Homo sapiens: one gene and its partners. The protein of the gene in region 1 purifies or fractionates together with the protein of each later gene. This does not show direct contact. Each region holds a gene or a part of one and is shown in the gene's direction. Other genes may lie near its edges.

What was found.
Region 2: the proteins of HPRT1 (region 1) and PPAT fractionate together in Homo sapiens (co-fractionation; one large-scale study listed by BioGRID). This does not show direct contact.
Region 3: the proteins of HPRT1 (region 1) and MTAP fractionate together in Homo sapiens (co-fractionation; one large-scale study listed by BioGRID). This does not show direct contact.
Region 4: the proteins of HPRT1 (region 1) and PSAT1 fractionate together in Homo sapiens (co-fractionation; one large-scale study listed by BioGRID). This does not show direct contact.

What each region holds. Positions count from the first base shown.
Region 1 is NC_000023.11:134,469,746-134,473,879, forward strand, and holds part of HPRT1 (hypoxanthine-guanine phosphoribosyltransferase), read left to right. Parts: intron 1-3,613; coding exon 3,614-3,720; intron 3,721-4,134. UniProt on the Homo sapiens protein: Converts guanine to guanosine monophosphate, and hypoxanthine to inosine monophosphate. Transfers the 5-phosphoribosyl group from 5-phosphoribosylpyrophosphate onto the purine.
Region 2 is NC_000004.12:56,394,801-56,397,811, reverse strand, and holds part of PPAT (amidophosphoribosyltransferase), read left to right. Parts: intron 1-1,072; coding exon 1,073-1,193; intron 1,194-2,263; coding exon 2,264-2,460; 3' UTR 2,461-3,011. UniProt on the Homo sapiens protein: Catalyzes the formation of phosphoribosylamine from phosphoribosylpyrophosphate (PRPP) and glutamine.
Region 3 is NC_000009.12:21,815,716-21,819,849, forward strand, and holds part of MTAP (S-methyl-5'-thioadenosine phosphorylase), read left to right. Parts: intron 1-998; coding exon 999-1,057; intron 1,058-2,319; coding exon 2,320-2,487; intron 2,488-4,134. UniProt on the Homo sapiens protein: Catalyzes the reversible phosphorylation of S-methyl-5'-thioadenosine (MTA) to adenine and 5-methylthioribose-1-phosphate. Involved in the breakdown of MTA, a major by-product of polyamine biosynthesis.
Region 4 is NC_000009.12:78,306,616-78,310,749, forward strand, and holds part of PSAT1 (phosphoserine aminotransferase), read left to right. Parts: intron 1-1,798; coding exon 1,799-1,968; intron 1,969-4,134. UniProt on the Homo sapiens protein: Involved in L-serine biosynthesis via the phosphorylated pathway, a three-step pathway converting the glycolytic intermediate 3-phospho-D-glycerate into L-serine.

The sequences.
Region 1 (4,134 bases):
TTTTTAGTACTCTGGATCTTCCTGATTTTAAAGCACTACAAAATGGTGCATTTTCATTCTTGTCAAGTGATAACAGATATATTCTGATGAGCCTGAAATGAATATATATTGTATCATTTTTATAATATCTAGCAAGGTTTGTATTTTCCTAGAACTTGAACTAAATTTCAGTTCATAAAATTTATAAAATACTTAGTTGTTGTAAAATATTTTTGGAATGTTCACATAGGTGACACACAAATGTCCCATTTTCATTCTTTCTATAGTAAATATGTTCTGATATGTGAAGGTTTAGCAGATGCATCAGCATTTAATCCTAGAGGATCTGGCATAATCTTTTCCCCCAAGAATAGAAATTTTTTCTGCTTATGAAAGTAGTACATGTTTCTTTAAAAACAAATCAATATTGACTTCTGCCTGCTGTATAGCACTATGCCTCCACCTGGCCATGACCAGGGGCATGTCCTGGTCCACCTACCTGAAAATGTTTGCAACCAGCCTCCTGGCCATGTGCACAGGGGCTGAAGTTGTCCCACAGGTATTACGGGCCAACCTGACAATACATGAAGTTCCACCAAAGTCTGAGAACTCAGAACTGAGCTTTGGGGACTGAAAGACAGCACAAACCTCAAATTTCTCAGCACTGGAAACCTCAAAATATAACTGAATTCCATAAATAAGATTTTAAGTCTTAAATATGTATTTTTAAATGTATTAAAAGTCAAGCTGCTTGTATTTAAGCACCTAATACAATGCTTAGGTTGTAAAAGGAGATGCTCAATAGGTACTAACTGATATATTGAGATTTAATTATGGTTTGACCAATATTTATTGGAAACCGCCAAAGCTTAAATCATCAGCTTCTTGAATGTGATTTGAAAGGTAATTTAGTATTGAATAGCATGTGAGCTAGAGTATTTCATTCTTTCTGGTTTATTTCTTCAAATAGACTTTGAATATAATGGTGAATGGGTATTATAAATTAACTAATAAAAATGACATTGAAAATGAAAAAATATATATATTAAAGTGTAGAAAGTGACCAGGCGTGGTGGCTCACACCTGTAATCCAAGCACCTTGGGAGGCTGAGGCAGGAGGATCTCTTGATCCCAGGAGTTCAAGACCAGCCTGGGCAACATAGCGAGACTTCGTCTCTAAAAAAAAAAAAGAGAGAGAAAAAAATTTTTTTTATTTAAAAAAAGTGTAGAAAGTGTCAAGACCCCACTTCTTACCATTATTTGGTATATTTCTCTATACCCACCCACCCTTCCTCCTTACTCCCTCCCTCCCTTCCCAATCTTTTTATCTTTTTGTATTCTGATTTTTTGTTTGTATATTTTGCTTTAATTTAATGTATCCTTTAAAAATTTCCCATACATTTTATATGTATATATAAAAACGCATGCTGCCAAAGATAATTTATAAGAAAGACCATTGAATTTTTTTAAAAGTGATATATATTCATTGAAAAAAATTTAGAATATATAGCAAAGCAATAAAGAACTAAATAAAATTGCTGTAACTCCTCTTTCAAAGATAAGTGCTTTTATGATTTTGTTGTATTTTTTTCTGTATATAGGTACATATATAGTATTTATAAAGCTGTACTCATAGTACATTTTCACATCACAGGTACCATATCAGTGTTATTAAATATTTTGTATGCCAGGGGCTAGACATACCAAGACAACCAATATGTGGTTCTACTTAAATAATATTAGAGTATCTTTTATGATGACACTTCATGAGTTGACTATAATAATCTTAGACTTCTAAGAGTTTGGGTTTTCAAAAGATCACTTAGCTTTTTTGGGTGATTTTTCCCCCTTACTGTGAGATGAGAGAGGCTGTTTGGATTTGGGATTGGGGTAGCGGGGACAGCAACTTTTCTTTTCTTTTTCTTTTTTATTTTGAGGTAGGGTATTGCTGTGTCACCCAGGCTGGAGTGCAGTGGTGTGATCTCGGCTCACTGCAACCTCCACCTCCCGGGCTCAGGTGATCCTCCTGCTTCAGCCTCCCCAGTAACTGGGACTACAGGCGCGTGCCACATGCCTGGCTAATTTTGTATTTTTAGTAGAGATGGGGTTTCACCATGTTGGCCAGGCTGGTCTCTAACTCCTGACCTCAGGTGATACGCCCACCTGGGCCTCCCAAAATACTGGGATTACAGGCATGAGCCGCTGCATCAGCCAGCAGTTTTTCTTGTGGTTTTTTTTGTTTGTTTTGTTTTGTTTTGTTTTTGAGATAGGGTCTTACTCTGTTGTCCACGCTGGAGTGCTGTGGTATGATCGTAGCTCACTGCAGCCTCAAACTCCTGGGCTCAAGTGATTCCTTCTGCCTCCGCCTCCCGAGTAGCTGGGACTACAGGTATGCACCACCATACCTGGCAAATTTTTACAAAGTTTTTTGTAGGGACGGGGTCTTGCTACATTCCCCATGTCGGTCTTGAACTCCTGGCCTCAAGCAACTCTCCTGTCTCAGCCTCCCAAAGCACTGGGATTACAAGTGTGAGCCACCACACCATGCCAGTTTTTCCTGTTCAGTGTGATATTTTATCTTGTTAGACTACAGTGTGTTAAAACTTGTTTTACTAAATTTTCAAACATACTCAAAAGTGGAGAGAATAGTATAATGAATACCCGTATGTTCATCACCCATGTTTAGAATATTATTAAATATAAAGATTTTGCTGCGTTTGTCTTAGCTCTTTAAAATTTTTCTTTTTCTCTTTGTGACCTAAAGGAAATTCCATATCTTATCACTTTACTTCTACATTCTTGACTAAGATGACTAAGACATATAGTTACATGGTTTTTTGTTTTGTTTTTTGTTTTTTAAAGACGAAATCTCGCTCTTGTCCCCCAGGCTGGAGTGCAATGGTGCCATCTCAGCTCAGTGCAACCTCTGCCTTCTGGGTACAAGCGATTCTCCTGCCTCAGCCTCCCAAGTAGCTGGGATTACAGGCTCCTGCCACCACGCCTGGCTAATTTTTGTATTTTTAGTAGAGACGGCGGGGGGAGGTTTCACCATGTTGACAAGGCTGGTCTGGAACTCCTGACCTCAGGTGATCCACCCGCCTCGGCCTCCCAAAGTGCTGGGATTACAGGCGTGAGCCACCGCGCCCAGCCTGTTTTTTTGTTTGTTTGTTTTGTTTTTTTTGAGACAGAGTCTTGCTCTGTTTCCCAGGCTGGAGTGAAGTGGCGCATTCTTGGCTCACTGCAACCTTCACCTCCCAGGTTCAAGTGATTCTCCTGCCTCAGCCTCCCAAGTAGCTGGGACTACAGGCATGTGTCACCACACCCGGCTAATTTTTTTGTATTTTTAGTAGAGACGGGATTTCACCGTGTTGCCCAGGCTGGTCTCGAACTCCTGAGCTCAGGCAGTCTGCCTGCCTCAGCCTCCCAAAGTGCTGGGATTACACGTGTGAACCAACCCGCCCGGCCTGTTGTTTTCTTACATAATTCATTATCATACCTACAAAGTTAACAGTTACTAATATCATCTTACACCTAAATTTCTCTGATAGACTAAGGTTATTTTTTAACATCTTAATCCAATCAAATGTTTGTATCCTGTAATGCTCTCATTGAAACAGCTATATTTCTTTTTCAGATTAGTGATGATGAACCAGGTTATGACCTTGATTTATTTTGCATACCTAATCATTATGCTGAGGATTTGGAAAGGGTGTTTATTCCTCATGGACTAATTATGGACAGGTAAGTAAGATCTTAAAATGAGGTTTTTTACTTTTTCTTGTGTTAATTTCAAACATCAGCAGCTGTTCTGAGTACTTGCTATTTGAACATAAACTAGGCCAACTTATTAAATAACTGATGCTTTCTAAAATCTTCTTTATTAAAAATAAAAGAGGAGGGCCTTACTAATTACTTAGTATCAGTTGTGGTATAGTGGGACTCTGTAGGGACCAGAACAAAGTAAACATTGAAGGGAGATGGAAGAAGGAACTCTAGCCAGAGTCTTGCATTTCTCAGTCCTAAACAGGGTAATGGACTGGGGCTGAATCACATGAAGGCAAGGTCAGATTTTTATTATTATGCACATCTAGCTTGAAAATTTTCTGTTAAGTCAATTACAGTGAAAAACCTTACCTGGTATTGAATGCTTGCATT
Region 2 (3,011 bases), on another chromosome or scaffold:
GCCTCAGCCTCCCAAAGTGCTTGATTACAGGTGTGAGCCACCATACCCGGCCTCACTTTATGTCTTGAAAAAAATTTTTTTTTAATTTTTATTTTTTAAATTGACAAATGTATATATTTATTGTGTACATGTTTTTATATAGATATATTAAGTTATTTTAAGATTTCAAAGCTTATTCTATTTCAGTAGCTCATACTACAGAAGTGAGATGCCATTTACAACTAATAGTTATGTAAATTTAAAAATAAAGTCTCAGCCTGGGCAACATATACCCCATCTCTGAAAAATCAAAAATAAAATCTCACTGTAGAAGAAAGTGGGATGAAAAGCAGCATGCCAGTTTATTTAGAAAGTTTCCAAGATAATTGGGATTATGATTTTCCAGCCTTTTTTATACCTGTGTTTAGGATTATGATCATCTTACTCTGGAATTCTGTGGAAATTATGTAATAGATACAAGAGTTTAACATAATTTCATCATTTATTGCAATAGTGAAAAAGAATAAAGTCAAAGAACCTGGAAATGGCATATCTCCCTGTTGGTGAATATAATTTAGTAAATTGATATATCAGTGTGATGAAATATGATGCAGCCATTAAATACTAAGAAGACTGCGTAGCAAAAATGGGAAAATCTATTCTAATAAAGTTTAAAAAGGAAATGTGGACACTGAGTATAGCCATGTAAACGTACCTGATGAAAGGCAAAAAAAACAATAACAGACAAAAACAACTCTGTTGTAGTAGTAAGGTTTTTGTTATAACCTGGTAAATTGTATTTTTCTTTTTAAAATGGTAAGATAAGGGATAAGCAGAAGTACCTGGTATTACAAGAGAAAAGTGGCTCTAGGAATGTAAAGACATCAAATGAGAAGTAGGATATCTAGACAAAGAAACTTCCTCATGATTAGGTGAAAGAAAAAAAAAACCAAGAAGCAGCTTTGTAGAAAGAATAATTTATTACCCATATGTTGTTACTGAATATTCTGCAAAACAATTTTGTATTGTATTTGCACAATGAAAGAATTTTGCATAGTCTTAAAAACCTTGTGTGCAATGATTTCTTTCCAAGGTACACATTCGAGTAGCTTCACCACCAATTAAATATCCATGCTTCATGGGAATAAACATTCCTACAAAAGAAGAGCTCATTGCCAATAAACCAGAATTTGATCACCTTGCAGAATATCTAGGTAAGTATTAAAATTTCTATAAACTTTGATTATTAACAGAGAAAATCCAAAGCTTGACAGTCTTTACACCTTTAGTAAAAAGGAGTATTCAGTGTTTGTTAAAAGTAGTTATATATGTTAAACAGATATTGAATACTATTCTCAACAGTGAGAGTAGTGGGCATGGGCAGACACCACAGAGTCTTGTGTTGGAGAGCTAAGCCAAGGTGAGATCAGAGAAGGAAGAGGTGGTTTCCAGGTGGAGGGAAGTGCAATCATAATCACTTAAAGCCTCCCAAAAGTCAGATCCCAAGAAAAACAAAAATAATTTAATCAGATTCTAACAGAGTAATTTGGATGTGGATACAAATCACAAGGTAAAAAGTTTGTGTAGGTTCATATTCAATAATGAGATAAGGAGACTTCGAGATCTAAGTTATCCTGGGTAAGACATCTTCCTTTCAAAATCAGGTGATGTATAAACTGTGGAAATAACACATGATATTTAGTCATTGTGCCTTGGTACCTCCACACCATCTGTTTGTGGCTGGTGTTTCTTTTAACCTGTCATGCATATGCCTCACTGGTTAAATATTTTTAAATATCACCCTGATGGGTGTCATACATGTTATAAGCACTCACACTTTGCCAGAAACTATGCTGCCTATATTATCTATATTATCATAAAAACTCTACATTTAGGCAATGTTTCCACCATCTTATATAGATGAAAAAATAGACTTAGGAAAACTGAGTGAACTTGAGCTTAACTTTGAGCCTAGATCTTCCTGACTTTAAATTCCATTTTTTCAATTAAGAAAATTACTCCCAAAGCCCTCTAATTCCATTCTAGACTTGAAGCCTCCTCTGCTGTTTTAAATTATGTTATCCCCTAGATTCCAATTAAAATTTTTAAAAATAAAGGAACTGAGTTTTATTGATTTTTTTTCCTTTTTTTTTTTTTTAAAGAAAGGCTAAAGGAGAAATTTATCCTAGCTTAAATTATTCTGTTTGTAACTATTCTCTGTTGACGCGTTTCTTCCTTTCTAAAGGAATTCTTATTACATTTTTATTTTTCCCTCTTTCTTTAGGAGCAAACAGTGTTGTGTATCTGTCAGTAGAAGGACTGGTTTCATCTGTACAAGAAGGGATAAAGTTTAAAAAACAGAAAGAGAAAAAGCACGATATTATGATCCAAGAAAATGGAAATGGTCTGGAATGTTTTGAAAAGAGTGGTCATTGTACAGCTTGTCTCACTGGAAAATATCCTGTAGAATTAGAATGGTAGCTGGTAGGGTTGGATGTGTGTAGTTTCAAGATAGAAAGTTGGTCAAGAAGTTATAGTGGTCACACCTCATCTATTTACTGTTACTCAGTTGGTACAATGTAAAATGCCATGCTTATGTTTATAAGTTTTGAGATTTTTTTTTTTTCTGAAAAGGATACCAAAGTGCGATAACTGAACATTTCCAATTGCATATAATACAACAATATGTGGTGTTCTTTTTTTTACACAAGCATTGGCTAGCCTTTTTAACCTGGTCAGAGAAGGCAGGTGGTCACTGACATTTCCCAAGTCCATGCTTTAAAGGGTTTGCAAGAAGTTAGGGTTAAGGAGAGGTGATGCCAACAAGACAGGTGAGTTAAATATACCATTTCACACAAAGTTTGAATAGAATACATTATACCTCATAGGTGTCTAGCCTCTACAGTTCTGGCTGTAGTTATGACCTTGGCTTCCCTGTCTAACTGTAGACAAATCTTTAAAAAAAAATAATAATAATCTGGTGCCTCAGTTTCCCCACATGTGCAATGGGATACTTATTAAATAATTAATAA
Region 3 (4,134 bases), on another chromosome or scaffold:
TTGATGTTTTGAGAAAATGGCTACTTAGTATGTAAATCACTTCTCATTCTGTTGCTGGAAATCAGATACTCATTTCAGACCACAGACTCATTTCAGACTGTACTTTTCAAATCTACATTCAAATCTTCTAATTTGTGGCCAATAGGTCACACCACACTAATTAGGGGACAGGCTGATGACTAATAGGATGAATTATTGTTACGAAGCGGCATTTGAGTGGAAAGAATTGTTTTGGGGAATTAGAACATACCTGATGTTAGTTGAATGTGTAACTGAGCTAGAAATAAAATGCTCCTCCTTTTATAGGAGAGGTTGCTTGTTCTCCAAGCCCATGTCACTCAGCCTAGGCCGGGGTGAGGGTGTCTGCATTCTCCTAATTCCATATTGCTACGTCCTCTGGTCCATCTGTAAGATCTCTCTATCTGGCTGTCCCAACCAAACCCTCCTTTTCAGCTAAATTCTTAGGTTGACCTTGTGTGCTCCCAGTCCTGCAGTCATCCTGGTTCATTTTCTTAAACCCCTCGGTTCTAAGGGTCTTTCCAGCCTTTGTTACCTCAAGTCATTTCCATGATCATCTTAGACCTGGTTAACACAAGCAGACATTTCCAGTGCTGAATTCTTAGTGTCATGATGGTGGCTTGTTATCCTTTCTGCCTTTCACCTTCACACCTGTTCTCAAACCTGCCCAATAACCTTGACACATCTAAATTTGACCAGTCTACCATCAGAGTTCCCTGGGGTACTCGTTACAAATAGATCTGACTAAATGGTACCTACACAGGTGCCCATGGTAACCTTGAGTCCTGTGAATCTATGCCTGCAGAGGGATCAATAAGTAATTGATTAAATGATTATATTGATAATCAGATCTTGCCTCTTCTCTAAGTTGTATCCTCAGACTCTTCAGATTCCATGAGTCCTGTTGTGGTTGAACAATTATAATTTACATACCTGTTTTTAAATCACTGAGTTAAATGTCATTTTTTCATTGCATGCAGCCATCTGATGCCTTAATTTTGGGGAAGATAAAAAATGTTGATTGCGTCCTCCTTGCAAGGTATGGTATTTTAAGCTTTTTGGATGTTACTACTAAAGGATAATTTAAATTTAACTTAAATTCTGGAAAGAGTAAAGATACAGGTCTGAGCTTTTATATGTTGGCAGAATCAGAACATCTTAGTAACCTTTATTTACAATGTTTTATTTTTGGTTAAGTTATATTGACTTAGGAGATCAAAGATCTCATGCTCTTGCCCCTTACATTGGGAAAGTAGATCAGATGACTAAAATCAAAGCTCTGGTTTTAGTTCTAACTGCAAGAAGAAATGTTTTGTTCATTTTTTTCCCCCTTCTTATAAAGATAAAGAAAAACAATGCATCATTAATGACCTCTTGCTGGTAGTAGTTATATGTCTGTGGGAAGTAGGCTTAGGGCTTCTGAAGTGGGTTACTTGTGTCTGTGCTGTTGTTTCCTTAAGGAGGCTGGTGCTGCTCCATATTACAGAGGAGGCCAAGTCATTTTTATCCCATTGTTAGAAGTTAGTCAAGATATATGTATGAGTTCTCTACTGTTGTGTAACAAATTACCACAAATTTAGCAGCTTAAAATAGCACACATCATCTCCTAGTTCCTGTTGGTCAGAAGTCTGGCACAGCTTAGCCAGTCCTCTGCTTGGGGTTGCACAAGGCCCCACAAGGCATATTCAAGGACTGAGTCCCCATCTGGAGCTTGAGGTCCTTGTTCAAGCTCGTGTAGTTGTAGGAGAATTCACTCCCTAGAAGTTACAGGGCGGAGGCCTTTGGCTCCTAGAGGTGGTTCACATTCCCTGCCGTGTGGCCTGCTCCACAGGCTGTTCACTTGACTGCAGCTTGCTTCTTGCTATTAGGATATGGCAAAGGTGCTAGAAGTCACCTCCATGGTTAAGCTGTACCTTGCAAGCATGCAGGAGTCCGGCAGGAGAATCTCCTATGCATGCTTGCAAGGTAGAGCCTAATCGTGGGAGTGACTTATAGCACGTTTACCATTTTTCTATTGGCTGAATGCAAGTCCCAGGTTCACTGATCCTTTATACAGAGCATGACAGTGGGGTCCTCACTAGGGTCTGTCTGCCACTCTACATATTTGAAACAGGAGTGGCTTCTCAGAATCCAGTGAACCTAAATTTTAGTTTTAGTTGCTCACTGGACTGGGTTCTAGGAGACCCCCTGTGTTAGTCTGTGGTCATTGCTAGAGAATCACTTAATTTTTTCTAGACTCTAGGAGAAAACAGTTGGTGGTGTACTCATCACGGGTTAACAATTTCTTCTCTCCTTCCATAGGCATGGAAGGCAGCACACCATCATGCCTTCAAAGGTCAACTACCAGGCGAACATCTGGGCTTTGAAGGAAGAGGGCTGTACACATGTCATAGTGACCACAGCTTGTGGCTCCTTGAGGGAGGAGATTCAGCCCGGCGATATTGTCATTATTGATCAGTTCATTGACAGGTAAGCAGTCATACAAAATGCTTTAGGCTATTGTAGCTGGTCATTTTCAGCTCAAATGGACGACGCGTGGGAACCGGCAGGGCAACTGGGAGGGCAGTGCCACAGACTCGCTTGCTTTTTTTTTTTTTTTTTTTTTTTTTTTGGAGACGGAGCCTCACTCTGTCTCCCAGGCTGGAGTGCAGTGGCATGAACTCAGCTCACTGAAACCTCCGCCTCCCAGGTTCAAGCAATGCTTCTGTCTTAGCCTCCCGAGTAGCTGGGACTACAGGCACATGCCACAATGCCCAGCTAATTTTTGTATTTTTAGTAGAGATGGAGTTTCGTCATATTGGTCAGGCTGGTCTTGAATCAGGAGATCACCCGCCTCCGCCTCCCAAAGCGCAAAGTGCTGGGATTACAGGCGTGAGCCACTGCACCCAGCCTGTGTTAAGCTTTTCATTGTGAGTTTTTGTTTTTTAATTTTAATTGACAAATGATAAATGTATATATGAGGTATAACATTATATTTTGATATATGTATGCATTGTACAATGATTAGCAAAGCTAATTAACATATTACCCCACATATCATCTTTAGTGGTGAGAACATTTGATTTTTACTTTAACAATTTTGAAATACATAATACGTTGTCATTAGCTATAATCACCATGCAGTATAATCTCAAAAACTTATTCCTCCTGTCTAACTGAAATTTTGTGCTTTGATCAACGTCTCCCCAAACCCCAGCCCCTGGTAACCTTTCTACTCTTTACTTCTATGAGTTTGACTTAGTTAGATTCCACATATAGGTGAGATCATGCAGTATTTGTCTTTCCATGGCTGGTTTATTTCACTTAACATAATGTCCAGGTTCACCCATGTTGTGGCAATTGACAGAGTTGCGTTCTCTTTTAAGGCTAAATGGTATTCTGTTGTGTATATATACCACATTTTCTTTTTTTTTTTTTTAATTGTACTTTTAAGTTCTAGGGTACATGTGCACAACGTGCAGGTTTGTTACATATGTGTACATGTGCCATGTTGGTGTGCTGCACCCATTAACTCGTCATTTACATTGGGTATATCTCCTGATGCTTTCCCTCCCCACTCCCCCAACCCCACAAGAGGCCCTGGTGTGTGATGTTCCCCTTCCTATGTCCAAGTGTTCTCATTGTTCAGTTCCCACCTATGAGTCAGAACATGCGGAGTTTGGTTTTTTGTTCTTGGGATACTTTGCTGAGAATGATGGTTTCCAGCTTCATCCATGTCCCTACAAAGGACAGGAACTAATCCCTTTTTATGGCTGCGTAGTATTCCATGGTGTATATGTGCCACATTTTCTTAATCCAGTCTATCATTGATGGACATTTGGGTTGGTTCCAAGTCTTTGCTATTGTGAATAGTGCCGCAATAAACATACGTGTGCATGTGCCTTTATAGCAGCATGATTTATAATCCTTTGGGTATATACCCAGTAATGGGATGGCTGGGTCAAATGGTATTTCTAGTTCTAGATCCATGAGAAATCGCCACACTGTCTTCCACAATGGTTGAACTAGTTCACCTTCCCACCAGCAGTGTAAAAGTGTTCCTATTTCTCCACATCCTCTCCAGCACCTGTTGTTTCCTGACATTTTAATGATCACCATTCTAACTGGTGTGAGATG
Region 4 (4,134 bases), on another chromosome or scaffold:
CAGTGAGCAGGCTGCCAGGTGCGAATTCCCAGCTGTTGCAGTGCCTGAGTCCTGCTGTTCCCAGCCTCGTGGTGATGTTTGCCTCACAGGGTCCCACTCGAGTCCTTGGGGAACTACCTGCTTTTGAGAGTGGTTCTTAGAAACGTGTTTGGTCAACAGACGGGGAGAGACTTGTCTTCAAGAGCAGATGCAGATTATCCCGAGCCCAGGGGACCTATGTGAGGGAGCTTCCCCTTGCCTGGTACCCACCTCCAAAAGCATCAACAGGATACCGTTTTATGAGTGGCTTGCCAAGGCAGGGCAGTGGGACTGGCGCTGTAGGTACATGCCCCAGGGTGCGATGCGGGTAGAGAATCTAAGAACAACAGTTGAACTGACTGAGTGGTATTCTGCCTTTTTAATTGGGATAAAATATAACAAATTTTACCATTTAATATAAAATATACCATTTTAACCATTTTTAAATATACTGGTCAGTGGCATTGAGAGCATTCACATTGTTGTGCAGGCATCACCACCATCCATCTCCAGAACTTTTACATCTTCTCAGATGAAATCTGTACATTAAACACTAACTCCCTCTCTCCCCACCGTCCAGCCCCTGGCAGCCTCCATTCTAGTTTCTGTCTCTGTGAATTTGACTACTCTAGGTATCTCCTAGAAGTGAATCATGTACTATTTGTCCTTTTGTGTCTGGCTTATTGCACTTAGCAGAATGTCTTCAAGGTTCTATTGCACTTAGCAGAATGTCTTCAAGGTTCGTCCATGTTGTACTGTGTGTCAGAGCTTCCTTTCTTTTTAAAGGCTGAATAATAATTGTTTAGATATACTGTATTTGGTTTATGGTCTGCTTTTTATTATCACCAGGCACTGGCAATTTTAAATAACTATAAATTACTTTCCCCCACCCCCAACTTCCTGCCAACGCTCAATTTTCCTAAGGGTTTCATGGAGAGAGGCATGGGAGAGGGTTCTGTATCTTGCACAACAGAATTACCTAAAGTACCTTTAAGCCTCTGTTTTCTATAATTTCTTCTCCCTCAGGCAGCTTGTCCCATCCCTTCTCTTTGTCATAACAGTCCCTTTCTCAGCACCTTCTGACTGTTCTTTTATACAAATGTAAATAGATTAAAAAATCTGTTTTGGCCAGGCGCAGTGGCTCAGGCCTGTAATCCCAGCACTTTGGGAGGCCGAGGAGGGTGGATCATGAGATCAGGAGTTCAAGACCAGCCTGGCCAACATGGTGAAACCCCGTCTTTACTAAAAATACAAAAATTCACTGGGCATGGTGGCACACGCTGTAATCCCAGCTACTCGGCAGGCTGAGGCAGGAAAATTGCTTGAACCCGGGAGGCAGAGGTTGCAGTGAGCCGAGATTGCGCCACTGCACTCCAGCCTGGGTGCCAGAGCAAGACTCCGTCTCAAAAGAAAAAAAAAATGTTTCTTCTCTTGGTAACCAGGGAGAGTTAGAGGCCCCACGTTAAAGACTCCTTTCTACTTTGGGGGTAGAAAGGAGGTGTGCAGAGCGAATGTGAATATGTGCCAGGACTTTGCAGTGATGGGCTTGGGTTAGCCCCATCCAGGTGAGGACCAGGCTGACGGATCATCCTCAGGCTTTGGAACTCTGAGTATGGGTTTGCTGTCCACATGGAGATTGCTTTAGAGCATGAACTGCTCCCTACACAGGATAGAGTCATTTCCTTAAAAAAATTGTGCTTCGGGAAGAGTTGGGAAGTTTGCATACATGTATGAAAAATGGCCAAATCCTTCTTAAGCAGCATGTCTTTCTCTTTTTAAGTTTGGTGTGATTTTTGCTGGTGCCCAGAAGAATGTTGGCTCTGCTGGGGTCACCGTGGTGATTGTCCGTGATGACCTGCTGGGGTTTGCCCTCCGAGAGTGCCCCTCGGTCCTGGAATACAAGGTGCAGGCTGGAAACAGCTCCTTGTACAACACGCCTCCATGTTTCAGGTAACTCTGGGAGTCAGTCTTGTGGACCCAGGGAGGGGTCTCACTATTTTTCATCAAAGCGGAGGTTACATTTTAAAATAAAACATGTAAGCCTGGGCGCGGTGGCTCACACCTGTAATCTTAGCAATTTGGGAGGCTGAGGTGGATGGACCACTTGAGGTCAGGAGCTAGAGACTAGCCTGACCAACATGGTGAAACCCTGTCTTTACCAAAAATACAAAATTATCCAGGCGTGGTGGCACATGCCTATAATCCCAGCTACTAAGGAGGCTGAGGCAGGAGAATCTCTTGAACCGGGGAGGTGGAGATTGCAGTGAGCCGAGATGGCACCATTGCACTCCAGCCTGGGTGACAGAGGGAGACTCCATCTCAAAATAAATAAATAAATAAGCAAACAAACAAACAAATAATAAGTAAAATAAAGTAAAGCATGTTTCCAGGAGCCGGTGATCAAATGCCCCAGATATCCTATCAGATTCTCTGCCCAGCTCACCTCTCCCTCTGCACCATCTCTTTACCATTTGATCAGCTTTTCCTCTTGTTCTTTTCTGGGGATGTTGTTTTTTGTTTGGTCTTGGTAATCCAGGATCCGGTGGTTCACCATTAACCCAAAAGCTCTCTATACATGAGGTGCTGTGGCCTGCATCTCAAACAGCCAGTGCAGCTTTGGAGAAGAACTTTCAAAAGCTGGGCCTCCCCTGCCTTCATTTCTTTCTCTGTCGGGCCTGCGGGAAGCTGGCTGCCTGACAGAACATACTGGCTTAAATACCTTTCTGGGTTTTGTTGTTGTTGTTTTTTGAGACGGAGTCTCGCTCTGTTGCCAGCCTGGAGTGCAGTGGCATGATCTCGGCTCACTGCAACCTCCACCTCCCAGGTTCAAGCGATTCTCCTGCCTCAGCCTCCCGAGTAGCTGGGATTACAGGTGCGTGCCACTACGCCCAGCTAATTTTTGTATTTTTAGTAGAGATGGAGTTTCACCATGTTGGTCAGGCTGCTCTTGAACTCCTGACCTCAGGTTATCCGCCGGCTTTGGCCTTCTAAAGCGTTGGGATTACAGGCATGAGCCACCACAACCGGCCAACATCTTTCTGTATTTTAGCCTAATCTGAAGGGGTCCTTTTAGCCTGGCTCTCATTCGCTGACTGGGGGCTGCGTTGCAGCACTTCAGGAAGAGCAGGGTTGCCCTGCCTCAGGATCCTATAACTCCCAAACTTGGGTATTTTGAGAAAATCTTCATGGCTCTTAAGATTTACAATTGCCTAAGAGAGTCTAGTATTTACTAGCTGTGTGACCTTAGGCAAGTCACTTAACATGTCTGTGTGGTAGGTTCTAGAAGTAATAATAGTACCCCTTTCACTGGGTTGCTGTGAAGATTAACATACATATAAATAAATCTGTGTATATATATAAAAATTTTAAATTTTGCACTGAGTACCTGGCACTTGGTGATTGATAAATATTAGCTGCTATGTTGTTATTGTTATTGTGAGTTCTCAGAGCCTCAGCAGGAGCAGACACAAGGGAAGAGCTGGAGTTTGTAGATTTATCTTTCTAGGGCCACTATGATGCAGAATGGTGATGCTTTATGTGTATGACCGTTTAATCCTCCCAACTACCCTAGTAGGTAGCCAGTGTTATGATCATGATTCCCATTTTGCAAGTGAGGAAGCCGAGGTCATATTTTAGGAAGTGGCCTGGCTGGGGTGTGAACCCAGGCCATCTGACTCTAGATCCTGGGTATGTACATTCTGCCATTAGTGCTCTCTCTTCACCAGCAAAAGGATGAGTGTGGATTTGCGTGTGTTTGCAGGATTCTGCCTTAGGAGAATAGTTCACTGTTGGAGTCCAGCTCTTCTCTCAACAGGATTTTCTTGTCTTGGTGGAAGTTCTCTTAAAGGAGCGTAGGAAAGAGGGGGCTCAGGCTGGTGCAGTTAGTGGTTCCATCTGGGCCAGGATTTTGTCAGAGCTTCCCCTCCTCCAGGTGCTGCTTAGGGAAAATGTCTTCTACATAATTTACTATGGAAAGGAAAGAATTTTTTTTTTTTTTGACAGAATCTTGCTCTGTTGCCCAGGCTGGAGTGCAGTGGCGTGATCTCAGCTCGCTGCAACCTCCGCCTCCCGGGTTCAAGCAATTCTGTCTCAGCCTCCCGAGTAGCTGGGAGTACA